2 separate regions of the Homo sapiens genome follow, and region 2 is reported to be linked to region 1. Evidence: microRNA targets listed by miRTarBase, many of them from high-throughput screens and not tested one by one. Region 1 holds a microRNA gene; the other region holds the end of a gene's coding sequence.

Evidence for each region. Region 1 holds the annotated microRNA hsa-miR-330-3p (GCAAAGCACACGGCCUGCAGAGA, at 925-947, shown strand). A microRNA usually pairs through its seed, bases 2 to 8, with sites in the 3' UTR of a target mRNA and lowers its output. Matches are read on the target gene's strand: a 7mer-m8 pairs with bases 2 to 8, a 7mer-A1 pairs with bases 2 to 7 and ends in A, and an 8mer does both.
Region 2: miRTarBase lists TARBP2 as a target of hsa-miR-330-3p. Seed matches in the 3' UTR shown: 7mer-m8 at 554-560.

What each region holds. Positions count from the first base shown.
Region 1 is chr19:45,634,617-45,639,955 of GRCh38, reverse strand. MIR330 (microRNA 330) reads left to right here and starts at 869; the gene lies at 869-962. It overlaps EML2 (EMAP like 2), which reads left to right and starts at 559. Exons shown (of 19, transcript NM_012155.4): 1 at 559-599; 2 at 1,083-1,111; 3 at 1,322-1,451. The coding sequence starts at 580. RefSeq lists silencers at 265-354, 375-654, 1,351-1,645 and enhancers at 30-881, 1,351-1,645, 882-1,733.
Region 2 is chr12:53,505,861-53,510,442 of GRCh38, forward strand. It overlaps TARBP2 (TARBP2 subunit of RISC loading complex), which reads left to right. Exons shown (of 9, transcript NM_134323.2): 9 at 131-571. The coding sequence ends at 288. ATF7-NPFF (ATF7-NPFF readthrough) reads right to left here. Exons shown (of 15, transcript NR_159377.1): 13 at 1,974-2,167; 14 at 1,161-1,282; 15 at 828-1,033. NPFF (neuropeptide FF-amide peptide precursor) reads right to left here and starts at 1,624. Exons shown (of 3, transcript NM_003717.4): 1 at 1,513-1,624; 2 at 1,161-1,282; 3 at 828-1,033. The coding sequence starts at 1,614. The coding sequence ends at 916. It also overlaps a transcript of ATF7 not described here. RefSeq lists an enhancer at 2,745-3,039 and a silencer at 3,177-3,409.

The DNA of each region.
Region 1 (5,339 bases):
ATGACACAATCTCAGCTCACTGTAACCTCTGCCTCCCGAGTTCGAATGATTTTCCTGCCTCAGCCTCCCAAGTAGCTGGGATTACAGGCGCCAGCCACCACGCCAGGCTAAGTTTTGTATTTTTAGTAGAGACGGGGTTTCACCACGTTGGCCAGGCTGGTCTTGAACTCCTGACCTCAGGTGATCTGCCCGCCTCGGCCTCCCAAAGTGCTGGGATTACAGGCATGAGCCACCGCGCCCGGCCGGGTACTCTTATTATCCCCATTTTTTAAATGAGGAAACCGAGGCAGAGGTTGGACGACCTGTGTACACTGCTAGGAATTAGCAGAACTGGGGTTTTAACTCAAGCAGGCGCGCTCCCGAGTCCATGTTCTCAACCACTCTCCCCCACCCACCCCGAAAGAACCTGGGATCGGGAGTCCACAGCCCGGGATGTGTGACCCGGTGGGACCCTCCGGCTCCAGGGGTGGCTGTGGAGGGCGGGGCAGGGGCGCGGCGGCCCGGGCGCCTCCCAGGGCCGGAAGCGGCAGAGCCGGTCCCGGCTCCACCCCCGGCCCCGAAGCTCCGCCACCCGCCGCCATGAGTAGCTTTGGAGCTGGGTGAGACCCTTTCGCAGACCACCCCCCATCTCCTCTCCGCGCTCCCGGGGCTTAGATCTCAGGTTTCACCCAACCCCTGGGACCCAGACCGGCGTGGGGACACGCCCCTTCCCTTAAACTCTCCCCGTTTCTCCCTCTGCTTGACGTTTGGTGTGCTGGGGGAACTGCGGGTGGGGGGCGCTGGGGAGCACCTTGCTGATTAGGAGGGAAGGGTCCTTGGTGACTCCCTTCTTCCAGGATCGCGTCCCTGCCACTTCGTGCTGTGTGATCTTTGGCGATCACTGCCTCTCTGGGCCTGTGTCTTAGGCTCTGCAAGATCAACCGAGCAAAGCACACGGCCTGCAGAGAGGCAGCGCTCTGCCCCTTACTCGGCCCCGTTTTCATCGGAGACCTCCGGGGAGCGGTGGGGGTGGAGGAATGGTTTCTCCCCTTTTCTGAACTGAATACTAAGACCCTTTTTTTTTCTTTGTCCTTTCCTGACAGCAAAACCAAAGAAGTTATCTTCAGTGTGGGTGAGTGGGGAGATGGGGAAGGGCTCGGTGGAAGCTTGCTTGTTGGGGTGACAGGCTGGAGCCAGAGGTCAGGAGTCTTGGCTACTGGGTCTTTGCCTCTCTGGCCTCAGTTTCCCTGCCTTTAAAAAAATAAATAAATAAAGCTGGAAGAGGAGAGGGAATAGGGATGGGGCTGGTGTCAGTGCCTGACCTCTGGGGGTGTCCTGGCAGAGGATGGCTCCGTGAAAATGTTCCTGAGGGGCCGCCCTGTGCCCATGATGATCCCAGACGAGCTGGCACCCACCTACAGCCTGGACACACGCTCGGAGCTGCCTTCTTGCCGGCTCAAGCTGGAGTGGGTGTATCCTTTTGCTGGAATCTCCTTGGTGCTCCCATCCCCCCAGGAGGAAATAGAAAGGCGGTCAAGGCAGCTCAGGCCTGTAATCTCAGCACTTTGGGAGGATCGTTTGAGGCCAAGAGTTTGAGACCTGCCTGGGCAACACACAAAACAAGCACAGCACGTTCAAGGGCTATGTGGCCAGAGTGGGATTGGTGCATTTGAGCAAAAAGAGTTGGGAATGGCTGGAAGCCCGGGCTCTGGAGTCTGACAGAGATGGGTTCAAACCCCAGTCCAGCCCGTACCTGGCCGTGTGACCCTGGAAAAGTCGTCTTGACTCTGAAAAATGAATTTTATGATCTCAGGTCCATAGACCTGTGAAATAATGTGTAAAGGTACTGAGCTCATAGTATGTGCCCCATGCACAGGGACTGATAAAACACTAACTCAGCACATTGGGAGGCCGAGGTGGGTGGATCACTTGAACCCAGGAGTTTGAAACCAGCCTGAGCAACATAGCAAGACCTCGTCTTTACAGGAAATAAAATAGCAGGCCGGGCGCGGTGGCTCATGCCTGTAATCTGAGCACTTTGGGAGGCCGAGGTGGGCAGATCACCTGAGGTCAGGAGTTTGAGACCAGCCTGACCAATATGATGAAATCCTGTCTCTACTAAAAATACAAAAATTAGCCGAGTGTGGTGGCATGTGCCTGTAAACCTAGCTACTCGGGAGACTGAGACAGGAGAATCGCTTGAACCCAGGAGGCAGAGGCTGCAGTGAGCCGAGATTGCCCCACTGCTTTCCGGCCTGGGCCACAAGAGTGAAACTCCGTCTCAAAAAAAAAAAAAAAAAAAAAAAAAAGAAAAGAAAAAGAAAAAAAAAATAGCCAGCCATGGTGGCATGCTCCTGTGGTTCCCAGCTACTCTGGAGGCTGAGGTGGGAGCATCACTTGAGCCTGGGAGGTCGAGGTTGCAGTGAGCCATGATTGTGCTATTGCACTCCAGCCTGGGCGACAGAGCGAGACTCCTTTCTCAAAAAAAAAAAAAAAAAAAAAAAAATCCAAAATAATAACTCAAGCACTTACTATCTGACAGACACTGTTGTAAGTTATTCCAGGTATGAATTTATTTTTTTACAACTAGTGGCCTCCAAGAGCTCTGAGGCCTACAGTTTGGAAATTATTATACCTCCTTTCCAGATAAGGAAACTGAGGTTATAGGTAGGAGACAACAATCCTGATTCTGGGACCCAAACTTTTTCCTAAAATCCTATTGAGCTTGGAGTCCACACCCCAGGAACCCGGTCCTTGTCTGCTTCTCTCTGGGCCTTGGTTTCCTCTTTGGAGGAGCCAGGGTGGTTGGTGAAATGGCCTGGCCTTCTGGGTGCCCAGAGCCTTCTCGAGGCAGCTGGAAATATCCCCTGGAATCTGTCCCAAATGTCCTGCCAGTAGGGCTTGATAAGCATCTGATGAGAGGTGGCTGAGACTGCAAAAGTGAGGACCTCAGATTGCTCCCCTTTGCAGTGACTGCAGGTCAGAGCAGTTTCATGGGGTCAGGATATATGTATATTGACAATCATTCAGATATTTTCTTGTTTTTGAGACACCCAGGCTAGAGTGCAGTGGCACGATCTTGGCTCACTGCAACCTCCACCTCCTGGGTTCAAGCCATTCTTCTGCCTCGGCCACTACAGTAGCTGGGTGGCATGGGCCACCATGCCTGGCTAATTTTTTTGTGTGTTTTTTAGTAGAGACAGGGTTTCGCCATGTTGGCCAGGCTGGTCTTGGACTCCTGACCTCAAGTGATCCACCTGCCTCGGCCTCCCAAAGTGCTGAGATTACAGGCGTGAGCCACCGTGCTTGGCCCATTCAAGATATTTTCTGAACATCTGAGACATAGGGCTGGGGACCCAGTGCTGACCATGACAGCATCTGCCTGCCCTCCTGGGGCATACAGTCTAGCATGGGAACAGACTCATTGAGAGTGACAACCCAGAGTGTGCAAGACTGGGATGGGGAATCCACAGGGACAGGGCTGACCCAGCCTGGAGTCATGGAGGGCTTCCTGGAGGAGGAGATACAGAAATGAAAAAAACAAAACAAACAAACAAAAAAAACAGCCCAATCTCAGCCACCATGGAACTCACAGTCTTATTGGGGAATATGAGCAGTTAACAAATAAACCAGATAACTATCAGCTTGGGCAACAAAGCGAGATCCCATCTCTACAGAAAATTTCTTTTTAATTAGCCAGGCAGGCTGGGTGCATTGGCTCATGCCTGTAATCCCAGCACTTTAGGAGGCCAAGACAAGTGGACTGCTTTAGCCCAGGAATTTGAGACCAGCCTGGGCAGCATGGCGAGACTGCATCTTTACCAAAAATATACAAAAAATTTGCTGGGCATGGTGGTGCATGCCTGTAGTCTCAGCTATTTGGGAAGCGGAGGCAGGAGGATCACTTAAGCCCAGGAGATTGAGGCTGCCTCTTCTGTCATTTATAAGGACACTTGTGATCGGATTTAGGGGCTACTCTGATAATCCAGGATGATCTCATCTTGAGATCTATAATTATATCTGCAAAGACCCATTTTCCTTGTAAGGTCACATTTGCAAGTTGTGGGGATTAAGAAACAGACATAGCCCGGGCGCGGTGGCTCATGCCTATAATCCCAGCACTTTGGGAGGCCGAGGTGGGCAGATCACCTGAGGTTGGGAGTTCAAGACCAGCGTGACCAACATGGAGAAACCCTTTCTCTACTAAAAATACAAAATTAGCCAGGCATGGTGGCGCATGCCTATAATCCCAGCTACTCAGGAGGCTGAGGCAGAAGAATCCCTTGAACCCGGGAGGTGGAGGTTGCCGTGAGCTGAGATCACACCATTGCACTCCAGCCTGGGCAACAAGAGCGAAACTCCATCTCAAAAAAAAAAAAAAAAAAAAAAAAAAGGAAACAGACATTCATTTTTTTTTGGAGTGGGAGGGGACCATCAGCCCACTACAGGGGTGAGAGTGGAAACAGAAAAACCTCATTCCAATGACCTTGTTGAGTCTGGTCCTCAGCCAGTGTGTGTGATGCAAAATACATTCCTCGGCTGGGCGCCAGCGGCTCAAACCTCTAATCCCAGCACTTTGGGAGACCAAGGTGGGTGGATCACCTGAGGTCAGGAGTTGGAGACCACCCTGACCAATATGGTGAAACCCCATCTCTACTAAAAATACAAAAATTAGCCTGGCATGATGGCATCTGCCTGTAGTCCCAGCTACTTGGGAGGCTGAGACAGGAAAATGGCTTGAACCCAGGAGGCGGAGGTTGCAGTGAGCTGGGATCATGCCACTGCACTCCAGCCTGGGTGACAGACTCTGTCTTAAAAAAACAAAACAGGCCGCGCGTGGTGGCTCACGCCTGTAATCCCAGCACTTTGGGAGGCTGAGGCGGGCGGATCATGAGGTCAGGAGATTGAGACCATCCTGGCCAACATGGTGAAATCCCATCTCTATTAAAAATACAAAAATTAGCTGGGTGTGGTGGCGTGTGTCTGTAATCCCAGATACTCAGGAGGCTGAGGCAGGGGAATCGTTTGAACCAGGGAGTCGGAGGTTGCAGTGAGCTGAGATTGCACCACTGCACTGCTGCCTGGAGACAGAGCGAGACTGCGTCTCAAAAAAAAGAAAAAATAAATAGGCTGGGTGCCGTGGCTCCCAGCACTTTGGGAGGGCGAGGCGGGTGGATCACAAGGTCAGGAGATCGAGACCATCCTGGCTAACATGGTGATACCCCGTCTCTACTAAAAATACAAAAAATAAGCCGGGCATGGTGGCGGGCGCCTGTAGTCCCAGCTACTCAGGAGGCTGAGGCAGGAGAATGGCATGAACCCAGGAGGCGGAGCTTGCAGTGAGCTGAGATCACGCCACT
Region 2 (4,582 bases), not on the chromosome of region 1:
CTGGGGAGCGAGCCAGGGGATGGTGGGGGCTGGACCGGAGCAAGTAGAAGGGGGTGATGATAACGTGAACGCACCCCTCCCCAGGGCTACCTCCCCCAACATTGCCTCCCTCCTCTCTCTTGCTCTCCAGAGGAGCTGAGCCTGAGTGGACTCTGCCAGTGCCTGGTGGAACTGTCCACCCAGCCGGCCACTGTGTGTCATGGCTCTGCAACCACCAGGGAGGCAGCCCGTGGTGAGGCTGCCCGCCGTGCCCTGCAGTACCTCAAGATCATGGCAGGCAGCAAGTGAAGCCCCAGCTGGACTCATGGATGTGCACCCTTTGCTCCCTGCTCTTTCTGCCTCTGGGCTCATGTATCTGCGCAGCTCTGGTACCCTCTGTGGGTGCCATCTCTACCTCTGACACAGACTGCCTGCCTTGAAGCTGAGAAGGCACAGGGCAAGGAGCCAAGGACCACAGAGCCTCAGCCAGCCCAGGATCCGTCCTCATTTTATTGGTGATGATGAATGGGAATGAAATCAGGGGGCTGTCTACTAGAGCCTGGAATAAATATGCTGCTTTGTGGATTTTTAAGCCCTTCTCTTCTGTTTCCTTGAGCAGTGTGGATAGCAGAGGAGGTCACCACATTACTTTTGTGTGCCTTCCCTGAGCTCCTGTTCCAGCCATTCTCCTGTTTTCCTTTCTGGTGGGAGGAGGCTGGGCACAGTGGCCTCGTGGAATGTTGTCGGCTGCCTTGCTGGAGGGCTGGGTTTGGTGGAGGGGAAGGGCAGTGGTTCTTGCCCTTGGGCTTCCACCCAGCCCTGTAAAGTCTCACACAGACACACATGGATTCAGAAGCCAGACAATTTTATTTGGGGGGCAAACATTGACACTTTTGGGTGTGGACCTTGCATGCAGACATATCAAGGGATGACATGTCACTTCTTCCCAAAGCGTTGAGGGGCAGCCAGGCTCCAGAACTGGGAATTCAGCCCCTCTCCAGCCCGGGGACTCAGCCATTCATTCCTCCAGGATCCCTGGGTATTTCTGCCAAACCTTAGGAAAGATTTGTCCTCAGGTCCCCGCAGTCTCCCTTCTCTAGCCCCCTTCCTTCTCCTCTTCCTCTGCCTCCTGCCCTTTCCACCCCCAGCCCCTGCCATGCTTGTGTCCCTTTCAGACTCACCTCTGGGGCTGAAACAGGAAGGCTTGGCTCCGGCCAGGTCTCTCCATTGCCTGGAGCAGGTAGTGCAACAGTGACCCAGAGGTCTGGGCATCCTGTGGTGGGAGGGGTTCGCTGTCTTCCTCCTGTGCCAAGGGGGTATCAGGGAAGGAAGATGGGCAAATACCCTGGACACGTAAGTCACAAGGGGAAGGGACTGGCTTCCAGGGGCAAGTGGTAGGAGGCTGCGGAACCATTTCCTCAGATGTGAGGACCTAATGACAACCTTGGCAGCCAGAGAAAGTATCAGAACCTAGAGCACAAGTCTCAACCGAAGTAGAGGCAATGGTGATATGGGGATGGGACACACACTCACCGCGGAGAGCTGGTCTTCCTGCTGGCCTCCTGGCCCTTCAGCACAGCCCCCGTCTATTAACAGCAGCAGCACCAGCAGTGCAGCAGCCTGCCTAGAATCCATGCTGCCACCTACCCTCCTACAGCCACCCCAACCTCTTATACCTGCTGTTCCCCCACCCCCAGCCTCACAGTAGCCTTAGGGGAATCTAGAGCAGGCAAATGGAAATGCAGGGCTCATTAGGAGCCACCTGGGATCTCCTCCCATGGCGCCCCCAGGACTTCATGCTCTCAGCCTCCTGCCCCCGGCCCCTAAGCCTGGAGTTACAGACTTTATTAGATGCATAAATCCTGTCTCCAGAGCTCAAGAAGCATCATTAGTTGCAGACGCTTTGTCAGAGCCAGGCCCTGGGGAGCCTTAGACGAACCCCTAATCCCTCAACAGGTTGGAGAGCTTGTTTATCACTTCCCCTCTTTCCTAACCTGTAGACTAAAGCACAAGAAACTCATGTCAGGAGGGGTTAAGTAGGATGTCCTGGAGTGGAAGAGGAGTGGGAAGAGCCAGGGTCAGAGTCTGTGAGGATGACCAGGCCTGGTCCTCTGTGCCTGGGGCTGGCAGTCAGGGCAACACAGCCCATCCTCTGCTTGTGTGCCTCTTGGAGGCTACTCAGATTTGCCTGTGGATAGAAAAAATATATTCAACTTCATGATGATGGAGAGAATTTAACTTTTTTTCTTTTTGAGATGGAGTTTCGCTCTTTTTGCCCAGGCTGGAGTGCAGTGGCGCGATCTCGGCTCACTGCAACCTCTGGCTCCTGGGTTCAAGTGATTCTCCTGCCTCAGCCTCCCAAGTAGCTGGGACTACAGGCGTCAACCACCATGCCCAGCCTGTATCTTTTTTTTTTTTAATTAAAAACCATTTTTTTTTTGGCCGGGTGCAGTGCCTCACACCTGTAACCCCAGCACTTTGGGAGACCAAGGCGGGTGGATCACCTGAGGGCAGGAGTTCGAGACCAGCCTGGCCAACATGGTGAAACCCTGTCTACTAAAAATACGAAAATTAGCTGGGCGTGGTGGTAGGCACCTGTAATCCCAGCTACTCAGGAGGCTGAGGCAGGAGAATCGCTTGAATCGGGGAGGCAGAGGTTGCAGTGAGCTGAGATGGCACCACTACACTCCAGCCTTGGCAAAAAGAGAAACTCTGTCTCAAAAAAAAAAAATTATTAAGATATAGAGGGAGGCTACAGGATTTTGGAGCCCACTGAATGAGTGTGGCTTCCAATCTTTGCAGACAGACCCCCATCCTCACTAGAGAGCACTGCTTCCGACCTGCCTCATCGCCCTTCCTATAGTCACTCTCCACAGCTGAAGCACTGCTGCCACCCTGTGGTCACAGCTCCTCATTGCCAGCTCCGGCCATTTCCTTTTCCTAGAATAGACCTCTGCAGAGGAAGTGAGGAGGGTGAGGCTGAGTGGAGGTGCTAGGGTCCAGTCTCCAGGGAGTCCCAGAAGGACAGGAGCAGGCTACTGTGGGGCTGGACTATCATTCTGACCCCGACTCTGGTCTCCACAGCCTCTGCCTGGCCCTGGCTCTCATATAGAGTAGCCTAGAATCCTGTCTTAAGAAAAATCAGAATCACTAATCCTCAGGGAGAGGCCTTCAAAGCCATATGGTGCAGGTTCCTTCTAATCCTCGAGTCCCTTTTGGAGCATCCCCACCAGTGTGGGTCTCTAGCTTGTGCTGAGGAAGAGCCATGACGTAAAGGCCTTGGCCTCTGCTTGAGCAAGCTGTCTCCCGCTCTGAGCTTCAGTTTCCTCACCTGAAACATGGGCCCATTTTACAAGGAACGCCTTCCTAGGGTGTGCATTACTTAACATACTTTTTGTAATCCATTCAATAAAACAGCTTGCATAGAACAGGTATCCTCAAAACGTTAGCTGTGATTGCCTCATGTGCCCCAGTCGGGGAACTTACCATCTCCTCAGACAGTCTTCGGACATATTTATCCTTGTGCCGAGGGGGCTTTGGGCTTCCTGTGACTTCTACTCGGGGTCTTAGTTTGCTCCATTAAGTCTCAACAGAACATCTCATCTCTTTCATGTGTAAAAGCTCTTCATATTTTTGAAGAGAGAGTTCATTCTTACACTCCAGCTTTTTTTTTTTTTTTTTTACGATGGAGTCTGGCTCTGTCACCCAGGCTGGAGTGCAGTGGTGCGATCTCGGCTCACCGCAACCCCTCTGCCTCCCGGGTTCAGGCGATTCTCCTGCCTCAGCCTCCCAAGTAGCTGGGATTACAGGCACACACCACTATGCCCGGCTAATTTTTGTATTTTTAGTAGAGATGGGGTTTCACCATGTTGGCCAGGCTGGTCTTGAACTCCTGACCTCAAGCAATCCACCCACCTTGGCATCCCAAAGTGTTGGGATTACAGGCGTGAGCCACCGCACCTGGCCCACTCCATAGTCTTTTTTGCTCAAGGGGAAGCACCCCACTCTTTAAGGCAAGGCATCTAGGAACCAACTTATCCTTTAGACACGTAGATTAGAGCAGGTTTGGATCTGGATGCTCCAGATACCATATTTCTGTTAATGCGGACTAAGCCAGGGTAAACCTTTTCGTAAGCTTTGTCTCATGGTTGGTCCCAACCACAAAACCTGACATTCATCATCATGGTATCTTGTAGTTTTATCTTTTTTTTTTTTTTGAGACGGAGTTTTGCTCTTGTTGCCCAGGCTGGAGTGCAATGGCTTGATCTCGGCTCACCACAACATCTGCCTCCCAGGTTCAAGTGATTCTCCTGCCTCAACCTCCCGAGTAGCTGGGATTACAGGCATGCACCACCGCGCCTGGCTAGTTTTGTATTTTTAGTAGAGATGGGGTTTCTCCATGTTGGTCAGGCTGGTCTTGAACTCCCGACCTCAGGTGATCCGCCCGCCTGGGACTCCCAAAGTTTTGGGATTACAGGCATGAGCCATTGCACCCGGCCAGTTTACCACTTCTTAAAAGGGAGTATCAAGGCCACGGGGAGATGGCTTTTCTGTGGGCAGTAGCTGCTGCATCCCAGAATGATCCTTGTCTGCTCCTGTGTGA